7 linked regions of the Homo sapiens genome follow. The protein of the gene in region 4 interacts with the protein of the main gene of each other region in a pairwise test. Each region holds a gene or a part of one and is shown on either strand. Other genes may lie near its edges. The genes, in order: EMP1, POGZ, ZFAND2A, PLEKHB2, TAX1BP1, CLDN19 and STAM2.

Region 1 (3,500 bases), on a different chromosome or scaffold from region 4:
AGAGGTGCATAATTTGGTTCCCTGATTGCTAACCTAGGAGTCAGATAACTTCTTCCTGTCCAGAAGTCTGTGTGTTCACTGAACTGCCATGGGGCCTGGCGGCAGCAGCAATTCTTTAAGAGTGACCTAAAACACAATAACTGGGAGCAACACAATAGAATAGAGCAACCAAAAACCCACTTCCCCAGTGAAGGAAGTGGTCAAAATCCTGGGGCTTGAGTCACTGAAGAATTAGCCCTAGCTGAGGGGTGGGAGGGGAGCATGCTCAGAAATCAGGAGCTGAAGACGATGCAAACACTGGGGGAGGCCCTCAGGGCTCAAATTTCCATGATTCATTTGAGAGTGGGTGAGATTCTCCCAGAATGAAAGGCATCATGGAGACCTTCTCTACAAAAGGGCACGAGAGAGCTTTCTGAGAAGCAGGGTATGGATCTGGCTGGCATTTCCCTGGCAGCTTAAGAAAGGCCAGGATTTTTCTGGGGAGAAAAGAGCAGTAATGACCACTGCCAAATGTCCTATCTTCCCTTCCCCTCATTCCACTTTTGTTGCCCAAAACATCACAGTCCTACCCTGAGTTTCTACCTCCATTACTTATCTCACATCCTTCCTTATGTTCTATTCCCATTGCTACTGTCCAGTTCAGGTCCTAGCCTGACCATGGCATCAGCCTCACCCATGACCCTGTCTCTGAACAACTCCCCTCTAACATATCTTCTACCCTGCTACTGGGTTATCTGACCATGGCACTCCCCTGCTCAAGAACCTCCAAACCCCCACCTCTAACCACCACCAATCAGCAGGAAAGAGGCTCCACGCACCTCAAGCCAGCCCTTGCAATCCCAGGACTTGGATTTCCAAAAATAAAAGCTCTGCTTTTGTATTCTTCTTTCAGTGACAGTCTATCAAATTCTTTTCAACCAAGCTAAAATCCTACCTCTTCTAAAAAGCCTTCCCAGATCCATAGGTTAGGAGCAGTTTTCTTTTCTCTCTTCTTCTATTGCCCTCACATAGCTTTTTATTAAAACCACTGATGACAGCCCTAAGATTTTAAGTCCCTGAAGGGAGAGTCTTGCCTGTGACAGGTACCAAATAAATATCTGTTCAATGAACAAATAAATGAATTAAGGATGGCCATATTTTCTTCCCCATGGAAAAATAATCAATGTCAAAATGACTGAAGACTTCATAATAAACACAGAATTATAGAGGGAAAATATTTCCTTTTTTTTTTAACATACATAGACTTTAGTCCTTTATTATTTTTCAGAAATTGCTTAATACTTTACTACAACTATGTATTGAGCATCTTATTGTATGCAAACTTTGTTATATATTTCTATATAAATACCTATGTAAATATGTGACTGTTTCCTGAGTGCATTTGAATATACAAGGGTATATATGTGTGTGTTGCCTTTTGTTCAAGAGGAAATAAGTGAATGCAAAGAAAATGTCTTAAATTTCTAAACACTAGTTTGTCTGCAGATTTAATCTTTCTCTCTACTTCTTTGAATTATAGAATCTCAGGACTGAAGAGGGAGGTCTTTAAAATTCCTTTTCAATTCAAGAAAGTCATCTACAAATCTGACCAAAGAACTATCTGAATCATGCTTAACCTCCTCCAGTCATGGAGAGCTCACTACCTACCAGGATCCCTTCCCCGATTAGAAAGATTTTTCTGACAATACGTCCGAGTGTGCTCTTTGCAACGACCACCATGACTTTTAATTCTGCCGGTGAGATTACCTGACTAGACTAATTCTTCCTCTTTCTAGCATGGTTGTCTTCACAGCAGAACTACCAGGTTATCAGAAGATTCACCAGAGGCCTTCACCTTAGATCTCAAAATCTCAGTCAAGTCATAACACAGTCCTGAGATTACTGCTAGACACTCCCTGTCTTTTTGCTGGCCAGTGTTTTTCTGACAGTGAGATTCTGATCTCTTTCTGGATAACTGTAAACTTTGGAGAAAGCTTTCTCACAGCATCTGACCAAAGACGTGGTGCTTCCTCCAAAGCACGAGGAGAGAGAGAGGCGTAGCCGCTTCTGGTCAACTGACCCCCATGAGTCAGACGACCCCACACCACCTTCCTCAGCGTGACACCTGAAACTCCGCAGCTGCCTCTCCTTCCTAAGACACCACGCAGGGTGGCACGAAAGCCTTTCTGTCCTCTGCGCAAGTCGGGAGCATTTTGCTTTTGTTGGTTTGGTTTTGATGTGTTTGTTTCCCATGAAGGATCATTTGGTTGGCAAAATGGATGCGCATGTAACACAAAAGCAGAAAAGGAAGCACTCCCTTCTGGGGGCAGCCGGAGAGGATGTGTCTGGAGGAGGAAAAGACTGGGATTAAAGGCAGGCTGAGTGGATGAGACCTTGGATGAGCCTCTCTGGCCACTGTTATTGTTGTTTTATATCAAGTGTACTTTTCCATTCTCAATATTGTGTTTATGCAGGGGTGGGAAAGCAGGGGATTAATTTCTCCGTGGGAAACATGGGGAGAAAAAGGATTCTCAGGGGCCATTTCCTCCGGCCTCTGCATAGCTCATGTTTGGTGTGGAAGGAAGGAACCTCAGGTAGGACTTGATGTTGGAAAATACAGGGCAGTTTTTACAACCAGGAGAAACATCGTCAATCAAGCAGCAAAAGTAACAGGGACCTACATGCTGCAGGGAAAACAATTATTTTTTTCATCTTCCAAATGCAGGCTATTATAAATGGGGGTTATTATACAGCAAGTCGTGTTGGTCTGGTGCTGTGTAGACTAGCACAGAGTCTCACATAGTCAGGGGTGAGGAGCCAAGGTGTGGGTTGGGAGTGGGGCAAGCACACTGTATGAGAGAGAGAGAACCTATTGGAGAACCAGATTCTTATAATAAATCTGCCCCTGACCAACTTCTGACTTTAGAAAAATCACATAACCTCTCTGGTCAGTGGCTCCTACAGGCACAGAGTTCAAAGTAGCACAGAGCAGGGATTCTCAGCTCCAATCCTGGCTCCACCATGTCTGAACTGTGACCTGTAGACCTCACAGGATTAGCATGAGGGCTGAAGGCCTGTGCCAGGCACAGAGTGGGGGCCACACAGTTCCTGGTTGGTTGGTCTCTTCCTCTGTGTAAAATGAGAGGCTCGGGCCGGGGAAATGGGCTTTATGCTTCTCTGGCAGAGCCTGAGGGCCAACAATTATGCTAAAGGCAAACAAGTGGCATGAATATTGTTTTTGCAAATGCTCCCAAGAAGAATAACCTCTCTCTCTTATTTCCGCTTGTCCTCCTTCGTGTCCAGGGGAGGGGTGGATCTGGGCAACATCTGCAAAGACTGAGGCCAGACCTGGGCTGTGAAGTTGGGGCCCAGCCTACTCCCCCAGACTGCAGCTGGTCAAGGGATCAGGCGATGTTCCCTGGGCGAGGACGGAAGCGTGAGTTGCCTTCTGCTTTTGACAAACGAGTGTTCTGGCAGCCAGAATGTCTTCAAGGGAGAGGTTGCCAAGATAATAACTAGGG
Region 2 (3,500 bases), on a different chromosome or scaffold from region 4:
GCCAAGATCACTCCAGCCTGGGCAACTGAGCGAGACTCCATCACAAAAAGAAGAAAAAAGAAAAGGGTGAAAGAATTCTACAAGGAACACTTAAACTATCCACCACCTAGACAGAGTGACTTTTTTTTTTTAAGACAGAGTCTCGCTCTGTTGCCTAGACTAGAGTGCAGTGGCACAATCTTGGCTCACTGCAACCTCTGCCTCCCGAATTCAAGCGATTATCCTGCCTCAGCCTTCCGAGTAGCTGGGACTGCAGGCACCAGCCACCACGCATGGCTAATTTTTGTATTTTTAGTAGAGACGGGGTTTCACTGTGTTGGCCAGGCTGGTCTCGAACTCCTGTCCTTGTGATCCGCCTGCATTGGCCTCCCAAAGTGCTGGGATTACAGGCGTGAGCCACTGCGCCTGGTGACAGGATGATTTTTAATGTTTTGGCCCATGCCAAATATTTTTTGAAAGTTGGCATACTAGTATCTATAAGAAAATATCAAAATAGCCCACCTGTAGTGACAACTACTTGGGAGGCTGAGGCAGGAGGATCACCTGAGCCCAGGAGGTTGAGGCTGCAATAAGCCGTGATTGTGCCACTGCACTCCAGCCTGGGGGATAGAATGACACCCTGTCTCAAAAAAAAAAGCCAAATATCTATGTATTTGCTTAACCCCTTGAAAGTCACTTTCAAGATATTTCTATTAAATATTTTGTGCATTTCCTAGGAATAAATACATTCTCCTACATGAATATAATATGATTATCCTTTCTGTTTAAAAATTTTTTAGAGGGATCGGTTCTGTTTCCCAGATTGGTCTTGAACTCCTGACCTTAAGCAATCCTACCACCTTGGCCTGCCACCATGCCCGGCCAACATTGACTTTTTTTTTTTTTTTTTTTTTTTTTGAGACGGAGTCTTGCTCTTGTTGCCCAGGCTGGAGTGCAATTGCACCATCTCGGCTCACTGCAACCTCCACCTCCCGGGTTCAAGCAATTCTCCTGTCTCAGCCTCCTGAGTAGCTGGGATTACAGGTGCCCACCACCACGCCCGGCTAATTTTTGTATTTTTAGTAGAGACTGGGTTTCATCATATTGGTCAGGCTGGTCTCGAACTCCTGATCTGAGGTGATCCACCTGCCTTGGCCTCCCAAAGTGCTGGGATTACAGGCGTGAGCCACCGCGTCCAGCCGAACATTGACATTTTTAAAGAGACTTCTATTAGTTTTATAGAATGTTCCATATTCTGCATTTGATTATTTCCTTCTAGAATGTCCCACCTTCTGGATTTATCTCATTATTTCTTTGTGGTGATACTTAATTTGTTCTTTTATTGCTGTATTTCTTGTAAACGCAAAGTTACATTTAAATAATGGATTTGGGCCAGGCGCGGTGCCTCACACCTGTAATCCCAGCACTTTGGGAGACTGAGGCGGGTGGATCACCTGAGGTCAGGAGTTGAAGACCAGCCTGACCAACATGATGAAACCCCATCTCTACTAAAAGTACAAAATGAGCCAGGCATGGTAACGCATGCCTGTAATTACAGCTCCTTGAGAGGCTGAAGCAAGAGAATCGCTTGCACCCAGGAGGTGAAGGTTGCAGTGAGCTGAGATCGCGCCATTGGGCTCCAGCCTGGGCAACAAGAGTGAAACTCCATCTCAAAAAATTTAAAAAAAAATAAAATAAATAAATAATTGATTTGATTCAGGTTAAATATTATTGTCAGTAATACTTCATACATTGTTTTTGGCTTTTCTTGTGTATTTGTTTGCAAAAAAATGCCATAGACAAAACAGCTGATAACTAATGTGAATTATTAGTCAGTAGTTTATTGGTTAATGTTTTTCTTTTTTCTTTCCCTTTGAGGCAGTCTCCTGTCTCAGCCTCCTGAATAGCTGGGATTACAGGCGTGTGCCACCACACCTGGCTAATTTTTGTATTTTTTTTTTTTAGTAGAGACGGGGTTTCACCACATCTCTGGTCATGGTCATGGCCAGGCTGGTTTTGAACTCCTGACCTCAAGTGATCCACCCACCTCGGCCTCCCAAAGTGCTGGGATTACAGGCGTGAGCCACTGCACCGGTCCTGGCTAAGGTTTTTCTATTTAAACATATTACAATCATAACCTTTGGCTTTTGAGATACAGAGCTACTGTAACTTTTAAGTTCAACCATAAATAAGATTTTTGAGGAAGAACATAGAAATAGGTTTCCATTTTGTCACTTTGAGGCATTGCCCTCTGCAAAAATGATTTGAAAGTTGAAGAAGCTAGAAGAGTTTATATGTAGCAAAAGTAACCTGTAGAGGAATTGTAAAGGGGCCACAACAAGAAAAAATTTAGAACTGGGGAGGCTGGGCACGACTGCTCATGCCTGTAAAACCCAGCACTTTGGGAGACCAAGGCAAGCAGATCACTTGAGTCCTGAAGTTCAAGACCAGCCTGGGCAATATGGCAAAACTCTAGCTTTATAGAAAATACAAAAATTAACCAGGCGTGGTAGCACATGCCTGTAGTCCCAGCTACTTGGGAGGCTGAGACGGGAGGATTGCTTGAGCCCAAGAGGTCGAGGCTGCAGTGAGTTGAGATCGCGCCACTGCACTACAGCCCAGGCGACAAAGACCCTGTGACCTAAAAGTTGTCAGATGAATATGAAGATAAAATCAAGTTCCTGGCTGGGTGCTGTGGCTCATACTTGTAATCCCAGCACTTTGGGGAGGCCAAGGCAGGTGGATCACCTGAGGTCAGGAGTTCAAGACCAGCCTGGCCAATATGGTGAAAACCCATCTCTACTAAAAATACAAAAACTAGCCAGCCGTGGTGGTGGGCACCTGTAGTCCCAGCTACTTGGGAGACTGAAACAGGAGAATTACTTGTACCCGGTAGGCGGAGGTTGCAGTGAGCCGAGATCGTGCCTCTGCGCTGCAGCCTGGGTGACAGAGCAAGACTCCGTCTCAAAAAAAAAAAAAAAAAAAAAAAAAATCAAGTTTCACAGGTAGGTGATTATAGGATGAAACAGACTAGATATATATGGATTTTATAAAAAAATTTTTAACATACAAGATATAACCATTTGAATAATTCATAAGAACCTTGTTCTGCTCTCTTGCAGAGTTTTTGAGACGGAGTCTCGCACTGTCTCCCAGGCTGGAGTGCAGTGGTGCAGTCTGCAAGCTGCATCTCCCAGGTTCATGCCATTCTCCTGCCCCAGCCTCCCGAGTAGCTGGGATTACAGGCGGCCGCCACCACGCCTGGCTAATTTTTTGTATTTTTAATAGAGACGGGGTTTCACCGTGTTAGCCAGGATGGTCTTGATCTCCTGACCTCGTGATCCGCCCACCTCGGCCTCCCAAAGTGCTGGGATTACAGGCGTGAGCCACTGTGCCTGGCCTGAGAGGACAAATATTTTTAAAAAGAAATGATAGTTCTTTATGTATAGAATGTGGGATGATTTTTTTTTAATTGCCCTCGTTTTCAGAACATGTATTCAGTTTGATCAGTGATTTTCAGT
Region 3 (2,395 bases), on a different chromosome or scaffold from region 4:
TTAATCCGTTCCTAGTCATGGGTCCTGGTTGGTGGTTACCAACTATCTTAGTATATGATGTTCAATACTTTACAGTTATATTACCATAAACCAAATAACTTTTGGTCTCAAACATAGAGAATAAAATCAGTGTTCCTTAGTCTGCCACACAAAATTCTCTGTGCGGAAGCTTGCTCTGGTCCCCACTTTCTGGCCCTGTCTAGCTCTCCCTGCTGTGGCTGTGCCCTGGGACCCTCAGCCTCTGGAGGTCTCTTAAGCCTCTGAGACATCACAGCTCTCTGGCACACCCGCTTCTTCCACATGACACAGCTTCCCTTGCTGGGGGCTCACCCAGCACTGCCCCAAGGCCCCCACACAGGAATGCCCTCCCGGCTGCTCCTGGCCCGCTGTGCTCCTGTCCTTTTGGTGGGCACGCCCTGTGTTCTGCCTGCATCCCTGCACGGGTCCCTCCTGCATGGTCGCTCAGCATGGCCATGCCTGCCTGCCTTGGCCGGAGGGCCACCCCCGGCTGCTGGAACCCTCCCCACTCTCCTCACTGCCTTCCCCTCTTGGAGTTCTGACTCCTAGGACTTTATATCGCTGCCTACATCCTGGCACCAAAAAAAAAAAAAAAAAAAATGACCGGTGGGTACTGGGACATGATAGATATTCCCTTGATGGGGACAACCTCCACTGTCCCAGGGCTCCTGGAGCCAGTGCCTCTGTGGGGCTTGCCTGTCATCTGTGCTTGGCCTCCTTCCCTCCCGCTCCCTGCTTCCTGGCTGCCTCTCTCTGTTGTCCTCCCAGCAGCACCTCCGGGCCATCTTCACGGGAATCCCCAGCTTCAATGCTGACCGGCTTTTTTTTTTCTTTCTTTTTAAAGGGACGAACTCTTGCTCTGTCGCCCAGGCTGGAGTGCAGTGGCACAATCTCAGCTCACTGCCGCCTCTGCCTCCTCTAGCAATTCTCCTGCCTCAGCCTCCCAAGTAGCTGGGATTACAGGCACCACGCCACCATGCCTGGCTAATCTTTTATATTTTAGTGGAGATGGGGTTTCACCATGTTGCCCAAGCTTGTCTCGAACTCCTGAGCTCAGGCAATCCACCCATCTTGGCTTCCCAAAGTGCTGGGATGACAGGCGTGAGCCACTGGGTCCAGCCCCATGTTCTTCTTACCTGCACTGAGATGGTCAAATGAAACTTTGCATCTGTACTCTGTGCAGACAGGAACTGTGTCCAGTTTAAATGGGAATGTTCTTACCGGAGGCTGTTAAAGAATTTAAGGCCAGCACAGTGGCTCACACAGGTAATCTTAGCACTTTGGGAGGCCAAGGCGGGAGGATCACCTGAGGCTGAGTTTGAGACCAGCCTGGGCAGCATGGCAAGACCCCATCTCTGTGAAAATAGACAAAATTAGCTGGACGTGGCGGTGTGTGCCTGTAGTACCAGGTACTAGGCTGAAGCAGGAGAATCACTTGAGTCCAGGAGGCAGAGGTTGCAGTGAGCCAAGATCAAGCCACTGCACTCCAGCCTGGGCAACAGAGCGAGACCCTGTCTCCAAAAAAAGAATTGCTTGTTGAAGTCACTTTGCTCTCTTAGATTTTTACATACCGTTGCTCAAAAGAGGGCTGCAAGAAGAAAGAGATGCTGCAGATGGTATGTGCCCAATGTCACGGCAACTTCTGTATCCAGCACAGACACCCTTTGGACCACAGCTGCAGACACGGGAGTCGCCCCACCATCAAAGCTGGGTGAGAAGAGACTCCGCTGCGATGGCTCGGAGCACGCAGTAGCATGCGTGGAAGCAGCTTACACTCTAGTGGGAAGTGGAGCCCCATTGAGCACCATCCCACACTGGCTGCTGATCTTGTTTGTTGAGGGAGATGGGACTATAATAAAATTGAATGCTGAAGTTGATTCTAGTTGTTCTCATTGCCCACTGCTGCCGTCACCAAGTACTAAAAACTGGGTGGCTCAAACCATAGAAATCGGTTCTTTCACAGTTCTGGGGGCTGGAGGTCCAGGCGCAGGATGTCGGCAGGGCCAGCCCCTTCTGAGGGCTGCGGGGAGCATCGGCTGCGTCTCCCCAGCATCTCGGGGCTCGTCAATGCACAACCCCCGTCTCCACCTTCATCTTCACATGGCATTCTGTGTGTGTCCCGACTTCCCCTTTTTGTAAGGATGCTGGTCATGTGATCCCACAGTCGTGACCTCTGAAAAGACCCTGTGTCCACAGAAGGTCACACTCTGAGGTCCCGAGTCTAGGGCTCCAGCATGTCTTGTGGGGACATGATTCAACTCGTAATGCTAATGTTTGTCAAATCGAGAAGCATCTGTATTTGCCTCAACTGTTGCACCTGGTGGTGTCTGGCGTCCATCCCTGGGCCAGGCCAGTGGTAGTTGCTTACCTGCAGGAA
Region 4 (3,500 bases):
TTGTCCCTTTTATTTAGCAAATTAAAAATTTAAAAAAACAAAAAGATACATAGCTCTCTGCAAAACAGGAAAAACTCCCCCAGTCCAGTGGGGGCCCCCACCCCTATTCTGGTATCCTCTAAATGCAAGAGCAAAGTGGTCCTCACTCGGCCCCTAACAGGACTACAGCTCTCACAGCCAGGAAGGCACTCAGAGGCCCCACTGTTACCCAATGCCTTTTAAAAGATGTTACATCAGGCCAGGTGCAATGGCTCACACCTATAATCCCAACACTTTGGGGAGGCTGGGTGAGAGGATCACTAGAGCCCAGGAGTTCCAAGGCCAGCCTAGGCAACAGAGGGAGAGCTCATCTCTACAAAAAACAAGAAATTAACTGGGCATGGTGCTTATGGCCCCAGCTACTCAGAAGGCTAAGTCTCAAGGATCACTCGAGCCCAGGAGCTCGAGACTGCAGTGAGCCAAGATCAAGTCACTGCACTCCAGCCCAGGCAACAAGGCGAGACTGTCTCCAAAAAAATAAAGATGTTACAGCACTCTCAACAGTCCTTTATTCACAAATAAAAACTCTACAATCTAAAATGTATCAAGAGATATGTCCTATACATAAGTCTGTTTTTTACCTTAAAAAACAAAATTCTTCATTAAATTACTCCCCAGTATAATTTAAAGAAAAACATGTTAGCTCTTTAAAAAAAAAGAAAAAGTGGCCAGGCGCAATGGCTCATGCCTTTAATCACAGCATTTTGGGAGGCCAAGGCAGGCAGATCACTAGGTCAGGAGTTGAGACCAGCCTGACCAACATGATGAAACCCCATCTCTACTAAAAATACAAAAATTAGCTGGGCGTGGTGGCACGTGCCTGTAATCCCAGCTATTCAGGATTCTGAGGCAGGAGAACTGCTTGAACCCAGGAGGCAGAGGTTGCAGTGAGCCGAGATCGCTCCACTGCACTCTGGCCTGGGCGACAGAGTGAGACTGTCTCAAAAAAAAAAAATCCACACAAAGAATCATTTGGGGAGCTTGCCCTTAACTGTATGGATTGTTAATGCTAATTTTACCCAAAAAAAAAAAAAAAAAGGGGGATTTTCATGAAGAAAAGGTAACTGCGGCTGTAGAGTAAGCTTAGAATGAAGTTGTTGTGTGCTAACAAAGGAAGAGAACACTGACGCTATTAGGATATTAAGCCTTTTACTTTCTTCTCCCACATGCACACATTCTTCTGTAAGCTTGATCCACCTTCTTCTTTTCTTACAGATTAATAAAGGAGAGAAAAATCCCATCTAAAGAATGAAAACTCTGACCAGAGTAACACACTCCCTTGATCACTGACAGATAAAGACAGCATTACGAGGCTCTACAAATGAGGTTCACTGTCTCAGTGACCTCCTAAGGCCAGAAACAGGACGAGAGACAAGTACAAGTCACAAAAATGTTTGTTTCACAGGCTGAGCTCCCATGCGTGAAAAGGATCCTGCAGTTCTTTCTAAGCCTTTACTGCAAACCACAGCACAATTCAAAGTGTTGCAGAACTTTGAGAAATACAAGCATTTCTAGAAAGCAACACTGGAACAAGCATGCCTGTAAGAGCAGGGTGCCTCCTGCCAAACATTTGACAAACCCAGCTTGCTCACTGTTGGCAAAAGGCGCCCTGCCCAGCACTACCTGCCCATTCGTGGCCAGATGGTCAAGAAACCCGTTTTCCCCATTCTCCAATTGTTACACAAGACCATGTGAAAACATTACTGGTGGCCGGGTGTGGTGGCTCATGCCTGTAATCCCAGCACTTTGGGAGGCGAAAGTGGGAGGATCACTTGAGCCCAGAAGTTGGATACCAGCATGGGTAATATAGTGAGACTTCGTCTCTACAAAAAAATTTTTTCAAATAAGCTGGGCGTGGTAGCATGGGCCTATAGTCCCAGCTACTGGGAAGGGGAGGCTGAGGTGGGAGGACTACTTGAGCCCGAGAGGTAGAGGCTGCAGTGAGGTGAGACAGCACCACTGCACTCAAGCCTGAGTGAGAGTGACACCTTGTCAAAAAAAAAAAAAATTATTGGTGATTGCCATTAGCAACTTACTGTGTTTGTCCTAGAATCTTGGAGTGTAAATTTCCAGGCCCTGGAGAAAAGAAAAAGGGTACTTTATTTAAGGCAATCCAACATTGCAATGATTCTGAAACCTGGGCTGGCATCAGAATTCCTGAAAAGATCTGTTTAAAAAACAAGTCTTCAGGCTTTGCCCCAAACCACTTGAGACATGCACTAGGAATATATATTTTTAAAAATTACATACATAATAGATATGTAATATTTAAAACATAATCTATACTATACTTTTTACTTTACTTTTTAATAAATGTGAAATGTACTGCCACTTGCTTTGTCAGTTCATGGCATACACACAGATCTACTTCCTTTTTACCAGCTATATAATATTCCACGATATGAGTAAAAAATTTAGATTAGCAATTTTTCAACATTAAAAAGAATGCTGGGGACCGGATGTAGTGCCTCATACCTGTAATCCCAGCACTATGGGAGGCCAAGGCAGGGGGATCACTTGAGCCCAGGAGTTCAAGACCAGCCTGGGCAACATAGTGAAATCCTAGCTCTACAAAAAATATAAACATTAGCCGGGCATGGTGGCGCATGCCTGCAGTCCAAGCTACTTGGGAGGCTGAGGTGGGAGAATAGCTTGCGCCTGGGAGGTCGAGGCTGTAGTGAGCCAAGATCACACCACTGCACTCTAGCCTGGATGAGAGAGAGGGGCTCTATCTCAAGAAAAAAAAAAGAAGAAAAGAATGCTATTAACATCCCTATTACCCTTACACTCTTATGTAAACATCTCCACAGGGCAAATTCCAAAGACTGAAAATACCACATCAAAGGATAAAAACATAATTTATTTCAGCAGGTATTGCCAAAATGCCCTGCAAAACGATTCTAACAATCTCTATACCTACCAACTTTACACTATATTGTCAAAAAAAACTAGATATCTGAACCTTAAGTATCACAAGAGCTTTCTTAATTCATAGGCAAAAAGCAGTCTCTCACGCCTGTAATCCCAGCACTTCGGGAGGTCAAGGTAGGTGATCACCTGAGGTCAGGAGTTCGAGACCAGCCTGGCCAACATGGTAAAACCAAGCTTCTACTAAAAACACAAAATTAGCTGGGCGTGGTGGCACATGCCTGTAATTTCAGCTACTCCAGAGGCTGAGGCAGGAGAAGTGCTTGAACCCGGGAGGCAGAGGTTGCAATGAGCGGAGATTATACCATTGCACTCTAGCCTGGGCAACAAGAGCGAAACTCCATCTCAAAAAACAAAATAGTGTTCTCTTGTGCACTCCCTCACTCCTTTACCCCTTACTTTTCTTACTGACCCTATCCCTCTTATCTTCATCAATTCCTTTTATGTTTTATTCTCATTTTACTATCTCCCTGAGTTGAAAGATTCATTCACTTATTTTCAAGTGTTCTGGCTTTCTTTTTTTTTTTTTTTTT
Region 5 (3,500 bases), on a different chromosome or scaffold from region 4:
AAAACATCAGTTCTCAATCAGTATCTTTAACTTGATACCAGTATCTCCCATAAAATCGAAACTACTACTGAGGCCAGGTGCGGTGGCTCACACCTGTAATCCCAGCACTTTGGGAGGCTGGGACAGGAGGATCACTTAAGCCTAGGAAGTTAAAACCAGCCTAGGCAACATAGTGAGACCCTGTCTCTACAAAAAATTTTAAAAATTAGCCAGGCGTGGTGTTGTGTCTATAATCCCAGCTATTTGGAAGGCTGCGGGGAAAGGATCACTTGAGCCCAGGAGGTCAGGTTGCAGTAAGCCACTATCCCACCACTGCACTCCAGCCTGAGTGATAGAATAAGACCCTGTCTCAAAAAATAAGAAATAAAATTTAAAAACTACTCCTAATTTCATAAAATTGTTACAATGAATGTTTCTCCATTTTGGGATTTGACAAGCCTAAAAAACTGACACAAAAAGTAAACAGTAAATAACTATTGTGTTGTATTCAGAAACATCAAGAAATGAGGAATTCAAAGAAAGGAACTAAGTCATTAAATGCCAAAATTGTTTTGTCCAAATGTTTTTCTGCCTTCCCGTCAGGCTGGACTTTTACTTCTAGACACTTTCAATGTGCCTAATTTCTAGCAGCTATTCATTTCTTTCTTCCTTGTTGTTTAACTTTATACAGATTAGACAATCAAAATTTCAAGCCCATAAAAATCTTAACTAAAATAAAACAAACTGATTCTGAGGAAGACTACAGAATAACACAGGAGAAAAGTGAATGTGTTTTACTGTTTGGACATTCGTGACATTATTTTGACTGCTCAGAGGACATTCTTATGTTTTGGTTTTCCACTACATTTTGAAGAGTTAAAATTGCCAGAAAAAGTCCTGCACAGTGAGGTGTACCACTGTAATGATCACCTTCATTTTCAAGAAAGTATTATACAAAATCACTGGTAAAATATAAGAACTAGAACTCCTGCCATCAAAGAGTTTACTATTCAGTCATGTTAAACAGAATACTTTAAAACTGTGTAATACAAACAGAATACTCTTAAAACTGTGTAATACAATCTGAGCAATATTTAAGCCATGCAGGACAGTAGAAGGGATAATAACATGGCTGTCAAGCTGTATAAAATTAATTTCAAATGACTGGAAAAAATGGTAAATAATATAAGAACCCAAAGAAAAAGATCTTTTTTTATTGCAGGTAATGAATGGAGAAAATAGGAAAAGAAGATTCTGAAAAAATTTTCACAAGTCCTTAAGTGAAGGTAAACTTTCTGATCAGGGAGAGGAAAATCTGGTGAAATGGAGTTCCCAACATCCATTTTATCTACTCCCCACTGTTAAATATTTCATGGTGATGTTTACAAAAATGAGTCTTAATGCAGAGTTAAGGCAAGTAAAAGCTACTTATCAATCTGTTTTAAAAGAAAATTTTAAGTGTTTACATGGAGAACATATTCAGAAAGCTTTCTTACCTTGAATATACCAACCCAATCTTTTGGATGTGGATGAATATATGGAGTTAAGGTGTAATGACATTCCAGGTGTGCATTAGGAAGGTAACTCTTGGCCACATTTTGAAAGATGACATGGGCAAAGTTGGAAGTCTGCAATGGGACTTCTTGAAAGGATGTCATTGTGAATCTGAAACAAGTAATTCATACAAGTTAAATTATACCAACTAAGAATAAACTTATGCCTTCAGAAAATACATAATATTTAATATAAGTTTCATGAATATTTGCATGTCATAATTAAGAAAATATATACTTTGTAAATACTGGAACTTCTTAAAAATTGATTAAATATAAAAATACAGACAAACTGGAAAAATAACTAAAACCCATTTGGCTCAGAAAGTTATATGGGCATTTAAAAGTTAAAAAACCAAAACCAAAAATTAACTCTCCTGGAAAGCCTAGCCCTCTGCTTCTATTTAAATCAAAAGCAAATGAACCAGAGGTGTTTTTGTGCACACGCTGCCAATATAAACCTGCTGGCTCCTAGTAACAAACACTAAGAAACAGAAACAAGAACAGTTAAAAGTCAGTATTTTACTGGCTATGGGTCAATTAACATTTCCTTCCTATGTAGAACCCTTGGGCTTCATCATTCTCCTCCCTAACCTAGCCCATCCCATTCATCTCTTCCCCTCTCCCTAGGTTTTGGGGTCCTATAACTAAACCTGACGCTAACATCTCTGTGCCTACATTCCTGCCCTTCTAATCCCCTGGACCAGCATTTCTCAACCCTGGTTACACATTAGAATCATTAGGGGCCTTTAAAAAAAAAAAATAGATGACAACAACTTTCTGGGATTGGGGCCTGGGAGTGTGTGCATGTGTGTCTGTGGGTGTGTATACGAATATACATAGCCCTGCCCCTACATCGCCCCAAGTAATCTCAATCCTGTATGCAACCAGAAAAGAGAACCACTATCCAACAACTTCTACCTCTCACTCATTTCCACAGATCCCAGACCCAGCCTGTCTTCTTGGGCTTCTGTTACAAGCTTGTTCAAATCTCTCAAACCATGTAAAATCTTAGCTGGTCTACTTGAAATGGCTCAGCCTATTTGTTCTTCTCCACCTATAACAAACCTATCATTTCATCATAGGTCCAATCAATGATCCTACCTCAACTTCTAGTATTCACGTACCCTTTCCACATGTTTACTGATTAAAATAAACTTATATTTAAAAATAAAAATAAAAGTGTAGTGTTAATAAAATACACACTGTTGAAAATCTCTTAGAGATTCATGAACGCTCACTGGCTTAGTAAACACCAAGCACTGGATAGCAGATGAATGGTGAAAGCAGATTATAAAAACTGCAAGATCCAAATGTTTTCCCTATTTTGTGCTCTACTTTTGAGAAAACAGAAACAAATGAGGATTTACCCAAAAAAGCAATCTGTAGAGTTTGTCACAGGCTCCGTACAATCACTAATTCTACAATACACATAAGAAACTATGACTGTCCTGACTGCACTTGCTTGAGTCATTAAAACAGGCATCTCTGTAATAATGGGGAAAACTGGGGCAAGGTTTTTGCTAACCAAATTAATCTAATTTACTTCACAAATCAATGAAGTTTCTACAGAGCAAGCACAGCAGTAAGGCTCTACTCATATTTTAGCCATTAGTAAGAAGGCTTATTGCTAAGATCTAAAACAGTGTGCTTTTACAACTGTTTCTTTTGCTGACCTGTTTGAAATACTAAGGCAAATTTTTAAAGTTTTGTAATAATAAGCACTTTAAAAAATATCAACTTTCTTCTTGTGTCCCCTCTGCTTCTGTTATGGCCAAAGTCCTGCTTTACTGAATATAATGGATATCCCAAAAAGAGACTGTCAATCATGAACCTGGAAACCACTGTAGAGTATCAGGCTAGTTGTCAGCCTCTCCCTACCTGAGGTTTGCAAGCATTCCAAGATAAAGAGTATATTCAGTAGCAATCCCCCTTTACCTCTGCACTAATAAAGGGACTTTGCTACCA
Region 6 (2,322 bases), on a different chromosome or scaffold from region 4:
GAGCCCCAGGGGTCAGCACTGACCACTCTGACACAGGCCCCGTCCAAGCCACGCTGAGGACAGACCGAATGATACCATGATTGGGGCTGGATGTTCACTTCTCTTTCCAAAAAAATATGAAACACACAGTCTAGGTATGGCAGGGGACAGAGCCTGGCTGGGGACTGGACATTACACACCCAGGGGGCCCTTGGCGGAGGCGGGCAATTTAACAACTGGTCTGAAAGTCAAAAGAGAGAGAGCTGGTTAGTGGAGTGAGCTGTGGGGTCGGGGGCAGGGGCTGTGCATTCAGGCCCGGACATGGGTACTGGCCAGCGTGGCCAGACCTTGGCCCTCACAGCAGCCCTGCCTGGGGCCCATTCCCGGGGGCAGGGGCGCCATGGTCCGACCTCACCATCTGTGTAGGTGGCCCCCAGCCCTGGGCGCACTGGAAGAACCTGAGACCTAAACTCAGACCCTCCCTGTCCTTGTGTGAACGTTCAGCATCCCGGCACTGCCCTTGTGGGGTTGCTGTGAGGAGCCCATGGGACTGGGGAGGGTGAAGGTTTCTGCTCACCCCAAGGACCTGGGTACTAAGGTACGTCTTGGCCACTGCTCTATCTCTAGGGCCCAGCACGTAGCAGACACCCAAGCAGCTCTTCAGTGAGTAAACAGCCGGGCTGGTGCCTGAGGGCCTGTCTCCAGGGATGCATGCTGGTGCCCACCAGGCTGTGCAGACAAGACCGTGCCTGGACCTGCATCTGTGTGTATGCCTGGGGGCTGGGTCCTGCCTCTGGTGTCTCTCTGAGGATCTGGGTCTCAGATTGCAGGGTGGGTGCTTGTGTTGAGGACAAGCTGCTCAGAGCACCTATGCCCATCCTATGCCCCAGTGGCCCTGCCCAGGGTGCTGCGAGGCTGGCTGGATGCTGGGCAAGGGGGCCACTGGGTGGGGGGCTGGCCAGGGCAGGCGGAGCTCAGACGTACTCTCGGGCAGCAGCAGAGGGTCCAGGCCGATAGGGCTGTGGGCTGCTGTTGGGTCTCTCTGGCTCCGGGCATGTGCAGCAGAGGAAGGAGCCGCCCAGCACGGCCAGGCCAGCTGAGGCCCAGCCCACGAACAGGGCTGGGCCAAATTCATACCTGCAAGGGGTAGGGAGAGTGGCATCAGGTGTGGCTGCCGTCTCAGGTTGTTCCCAGTCCCTGCCCTGGCAGAGGAAGGGCAGAGTGTGTGGAGCTGGAGGCTGGAGCCTCACAACCTCTTCCATATCTCCAGATAAATTGAGGTGAATGCTCTTCCTTTCTCCCTCCCCCCCAGCCCAGAATATCAACACCACACAGGGTGACCCGGCCTGGGGTAGGCGTGAAGGCTAGAGGCTGGGCCTCCAGCTCCTGCTCTGAGCAACCTTGGGCTCATTTCCTGATCTGGCCAGTGGAGGGGGCATGGGAGGGCCTGAGAGGTCTGCACGGGAGGAGTGGGGCAATCCCTGCCATGTTTTTTCCCAGTCACATTCTGGCCCACAGAACTCCCAGCCAAGACTGCTCCCGCTGCCCTCTGGAGAAGGCCAGACCCTTCCACCTGGCACTCTGGGCTCTCCACACCCAGACCCTGCTGGCCAGGCCAGCCCTGCTCCTGGTTCTCACTGCCTTGGTGCCTTTGCACAAGGCACCCCCAGCTGGGGCACCAAGCCCCCCAGCCCACCACTCCTGTGCCTCCCCTGTTCCTTCTCTGCCTTCAGAGCCCAGTTCAGATGCCACCTCTTCGTGGGGTCTTTCCTTGACATCCTCTGTGTTCACCCCGCCCCTTGCGCCGACTCCACTACCATGCTTTCTCCAGGAGGCCTCAGCCCCTTGCTTGTCCGGCTCCCTGGGAAGCCCCTTGAGGGCAGACAGAGCCATCAGTGTCCCCAGGACCCAGCACAGGGCCTGGCAGCCCAAGTGGCATTGGGGACTGTTGAAGGGATCGGGGGCCGAGTCCTATCCTGACATGCCTGAGCTGGACCTTGCTTGGCAGACTTTGTGGCTGCAGCCACCACCCAGGGAACAAACCTTGTACCTGAGATCTCCTCCCTCCCCTTGCCTCTCAACACCTCTGCCTCCTCCAGGCATCCCTCCCGATTGCAAAAGCCCAGACATCTTTTCTCATCCTCTCTCCACCCCAAGGCCCAAAGCCCATTGGGATGTCTAGGGTTAAGACTGTCCCATTCTCTGCTCCTGGCTAGGCTGAGAAGTGAGGGAGGAGCCAAGGTGGGCCCAGGCCCTTTGCAGAGCATCCCCTTCAGTTCCCATGCCCACAGTCTTACAAGTCCTGGTTATCTCCTGAATATCAGCCTGCTTTCCACTGCTCCC
Region 7 (3,500 bases), about 21 Mb from region 4:
CAAAAATATTAAATGCAAAATTACAGATAACAATACATACATTTTAAATAACTTTTATTAGAGTATATTGTTACAACTCTTTCATCTTATTAGTTCTGCTGTTAAGTGCCAAATTCATAAACTTTATCATAGGGATATGTATGCATAGGAAAACAAACAGTATATATAAGGTTCAGTACTATCTGCGGTTTCAGGCATCCACTGGGGATCTTGCAAATGTATCCACCACAGATAAGGGCGGGGGTGAGGGGTGGCTACTGTTAAGTCACATTGTGACATTCCAGGTGTACATGAAATTTGGAGGGACACTATTCACTATATCACACAAGCAACATAATGCCTCTTTTGACACAGTAAGATTTTAAAAAAAAGACTCTCAAACTTTAATTCAGCTTGATAAAATTAGAATTCTTCTTCTGGGGAATTTTCTTTTTGAGACAGGATCTCATTCTGTCAGGCCGGAGTGCAGTGGCGTGATCACACCTCACTGCAGCCTCAAGCAATACTCCCACCTCAGCCTACTGACTAGCTGGGACTACAGGTGCACTACCACACCTGGCTAAGTTTTAAAATTTTTGTAGAGATAGGGTCTTGCCATGTTGCCAGGTTGGTCTCAAACTCCTAGCCTCAAGCAATACTCCTATCTCAGGCTCCCAAAGTGCTGGGATTATAGGCATGAGCCACTGTATCTGGCCTCTGGGGAAAACTTTTAGAAATATACTTTTAATTTTTGAAAGAAAATTAAACCAAACAAAAATCAAATCCCTAAAACTGAGTATTCCCATTTACTAACTGGCTAAAACTGATGATGAAAGAAGAAAAAGTACCTTCCGATAGAAATAAAGCATTATAGATCAGTGCTATTTATAATTTATTACTTATCAAAGTAACTCCAGCTTTCTTATAGCAATTCAATAAGCCCTCTCCTAGAACTCAGGGGCTTTTAAATTTATGTTTTTACTAAGAAAACCTTTTTAAAAAAAATCCCTAAGCTATATGTTTTTAAAACATTTAAAATTGATTTTTTAAATTTTGAAAGTGAAATTATAACCATCTTCAAAACATACAGTAAAATGTATTACGTAGACAAGTATCAATTATTTCAAACAGCATGACAATTTAACTACAAATAATTTCAAATCCTAACAAATATAATTACCTAATGTTTAAGTAATTTTATAAATAAATTACCAAATTAGAAGACAGTATTGGTTGACTACATTTTACAAACTATAAGAATATATCCCACACTTCATATATTTTAACACCCTGGGGTATTTTTCTGCATTAATAAAATTCATTCTATTATAAATTTTCAGGAATTCTTTCTGATGTACCAAGATTTCATATGAAAAAGCAGAAGCTATTTTTTTATTTCTGATATAAAACAGTAAGTATGAACCCAATGTAGAAATCTGAAGTTAGACAATTCCCTTTGGCAGAAAACAATTATAAACAGGTCTTAATATAAATAGAATCCATAAGCCCATAAAAAGGGAAGTACACAACCCTGTGTTTCTTAACACCGAAAGAATCATCAGTACACAGATTTAAAATCATTTTTATCTCTCGACAGCCTGCAACACAAAATTACATATGGCAAAAAATAATTTTTAACTTGAGAAAGAAAAAAACTTCTGCACATATAAACTTTCACCGATGTGCCAATATATACTATATATTTATATATATATATATGTGTCATGTTTTATTATTCTAAAACTACATTATTTATAATGGCTGATCCCAATTTAGTGGGTGTGCAGTAATTATATTGGCTCAAAGACATGCTGAATTAAACTTTTATAATTGAGATCACAATTATACATGAAATACACAAACATTAAAATAAGTTTATTAAATAGAGTTTGGGAGAAAAAAAGTAAGAAATTCCATATATATGCAAATGTTGACTATTATCGAGAGCAGCTTTGGATTTTTTTTAAATGTTTTTTAAAAATTATTATTTTGTAAATAACAGAAGATTTGTTTCCAAAAAGTAAGGTGCCATTCAGAAGTATATAATTGAATTAACATAAAGGAAAATACTGAATAAAAAACAGAACATGAGATATTAAAGGTTAAAACTTTCTGTTCAGTTATTTGTATCTGAAGTTAAGACAATGACATAAACTGAGCTTTCAAATACTGCTAATTTTTCCACTTAAATGTAGATCAAGTACCATATAGACTATTTTGTTCTAGAATAAAGTTTCTTTGAAAAAGGAACATATTTATAATCAAATTTCTGTAGATAAATGGCAAAATTTTCAGAGAACTAGCTTGAAATGGATTTAGTAGAAAGAATGACTGCTTCCTTTAAAAAAACAAATATAGAAATCTTGCTTCCACGTAACTTTTTAAAAACTAATGTCCATTGTTTTTCCCAATCTGAATATGTTTCCATACATGTATGTATTTGCAATTTCTATTTTCCAATATGTAAAAAGTTGGTAGACAATGAAGTAGTGTGCAAATTTTTAGGAGAGAAAACAATCCCTACTGGTTTACTACCAAACTCTCACAGTTATATAGAATCTATTAGCACTATAAACTAACTCAAAATGCAGGCTTCAGAAAAACTGCTTCAATAGCCTCCCTATCAATCTGTCGCCTTCTATGAAGTCTTCACCTGCTATTATTCCACAGGCTGAGAATTACTTCTGAAAGAAATGGTCAATTTTTTCAACAGCTTGGTATGTTGACAGCTTAGCAACGGTACTTGAATCACCTCTTTAAAAAAACAACACACCACTAAAAACACACTTATCATCCATGCTTGGTATATCTCACAACAAATTATTAGGAATGTCTCATGGTTCAAATTCACACGCAATCCCATAAAAAGGATATGCAGCATCTCTGCACACCACATTGCAGGAAGAAAAACAAATGGACCATATCTTCATTAGAGAATAGCCAAAATCACTTGAAAAGGTTATTAGTGACAATTCTAAATACCAGAGATACATGTAGGAAAGAAAATGTTTTTCCTCAGGGAATGGAAATGTTTTGTGGGACATTCCTTCACAGTTGGCATGACTGTTTGGGGGACTGACTAAATGCTTTATCACACATCTGCATTTACAAGGTCTTCACTGTTAATCACAGAAAACATTTTTGTTCCTTCCAGATTGCTCTTGCTTCTGTAGACAATTATATGCTAATTATTATTCAACATAACAGTGAGAGCAAAAGTGACAATACTGCAAACACAACCGCAATTTAAGGAGCCAAAAAGAAATATGCTGGCAAGCTAAATGCTTACACACAAAAAAGTTAGACTTTTAAAGTGTGTGAGAAACTCTGAAAAAAATATTTCAAGTTCTTCAGTGCTCTTATGACATTTTAGGGGGAAACAGTGGTTTCTTTAAAATAATATTTTAATCCTCCTATCTCATACTGTTTATAAGTATGAGATACTTTTGACAAACTCACTCTGTCGATCATGCTACTGCACTCCAGCCTGGGTGACAGAGCGAGTTTGTCATAAGTATCTC

The links.
Region 1: the proteins of PLEKHB2 (region 4) and EMP1 interact in binary tests that used the Homo sapiens proteins (3 or more experiments, as listed by UniProt).
Region 2: the proteins of PLEKHB2 (region 4) and POGZ interact in binary tests that used the Homo sapiens proteins (3 or more experiments, as listed by UniProt).
Region 3: the proteins of PLEKHB2 (region 4) and ZFAND2A interact in binary tests that used the Homo sapiens proteins (3 or more experiments, as listed by UniProt).
Region 5: the proteins of PLEKHB2 (region 4) and TAX1BP1 interact in binary tests that used the Homo sapiens proteins (3 or more experiments, as listed by UniProt).
Region 6: the proteins of PLEKHB2 (region 4) and CLDN19 interact in binary tests that used the Homo sapiens proteins (3 or more experiments, as listed by UniProt).
Region 7: the proteins of PLEKHB2 (region 4) and STAM2 interact in binary tests that used the Homo sapiens proteins (3 or more experiments, as listed by UniProt).

The regions. Positions count from the first base shown.
Region 1 is NC_000012.12:13,203,226-13,206,725, reverse strand, and holds part of EMP1 (epithelial membrane protein 1), read right to left. Parts: intron 1-3,500.
Region 2 is NC_000001.11:151,449,495-151,452,994, reverse strand, and holds part of POGZ (pogo transposable element with ZNF domain), read left to right. Parts: intron 1-2,046; exon of another isoform or gene 2,047-2,085; intron 2,086-3,500. UniProt on the Homo sapiens protein: Plays a role in mitotic cell cycle progression and is involved in kinetochore assembly and mitotic sister chromatid cohesion.
Region 3 is NC_000007.14:1,152,407-1,154,801, reverse strand, and holds the end of ZFAND2A (AN1-type zinc finger protein 2A), read left to right. Parts: intron 1-1,560; exon of another isoform or gene 1,561-1,577; coding exon 1,578-1,733; 3' UTR 1,734-1,895; downstream 1,896-2,395.
Region 4 is NC_000002.12:131,129,336-131,132,835, reverse strand, and holds part of PLEKHB2 (pleckstrin homology domain-containing family B member 2), read right to left. Parts: intron 2,116-3,500; coding exon 2,076-2,115; intron 1-2,075. UniProt on the Homo sapiens protein: Involved in retrograde transport of recycling endosomes.
Region 5 is NC_000007.14:27,746,662-27,750,161, reverse strand, and holds part of TAX1BP1 (tax1-binding protein 1), read right to left. Parts: intron 1,645-3,500; 5' UTR 1,638-1,644; coding exon 1,476-1,637; intron 1-1,475.
Region 6 is NC_000001.11:42,734,915-42,737,236, forward strand, and holds part of CLDN19 (claudin-19), read right to left. Parts: intron 1,117-2,322; coding exon 964-1,116; coding exon of another isoform or gene 848-963; exon of another isoform or gene 221-847; coding exon 172-220; 3' UTR 1-171. UniProt on the Homo sapiens protein: Forms paracellular channels: coassembles with CLDN16 into tight junction strands with cation-selective channels through the strands, conveying epithelial permeability in a process known as paracellular tight junction permeability.
Region 7 is NC_000002.12:152,116,764-152,120,263, forward strand, and holds the end of STAM2 (signal transducing adapter molecule 2), read right to left. Parts: 3' UTR 38-3,500; downstream 1-37.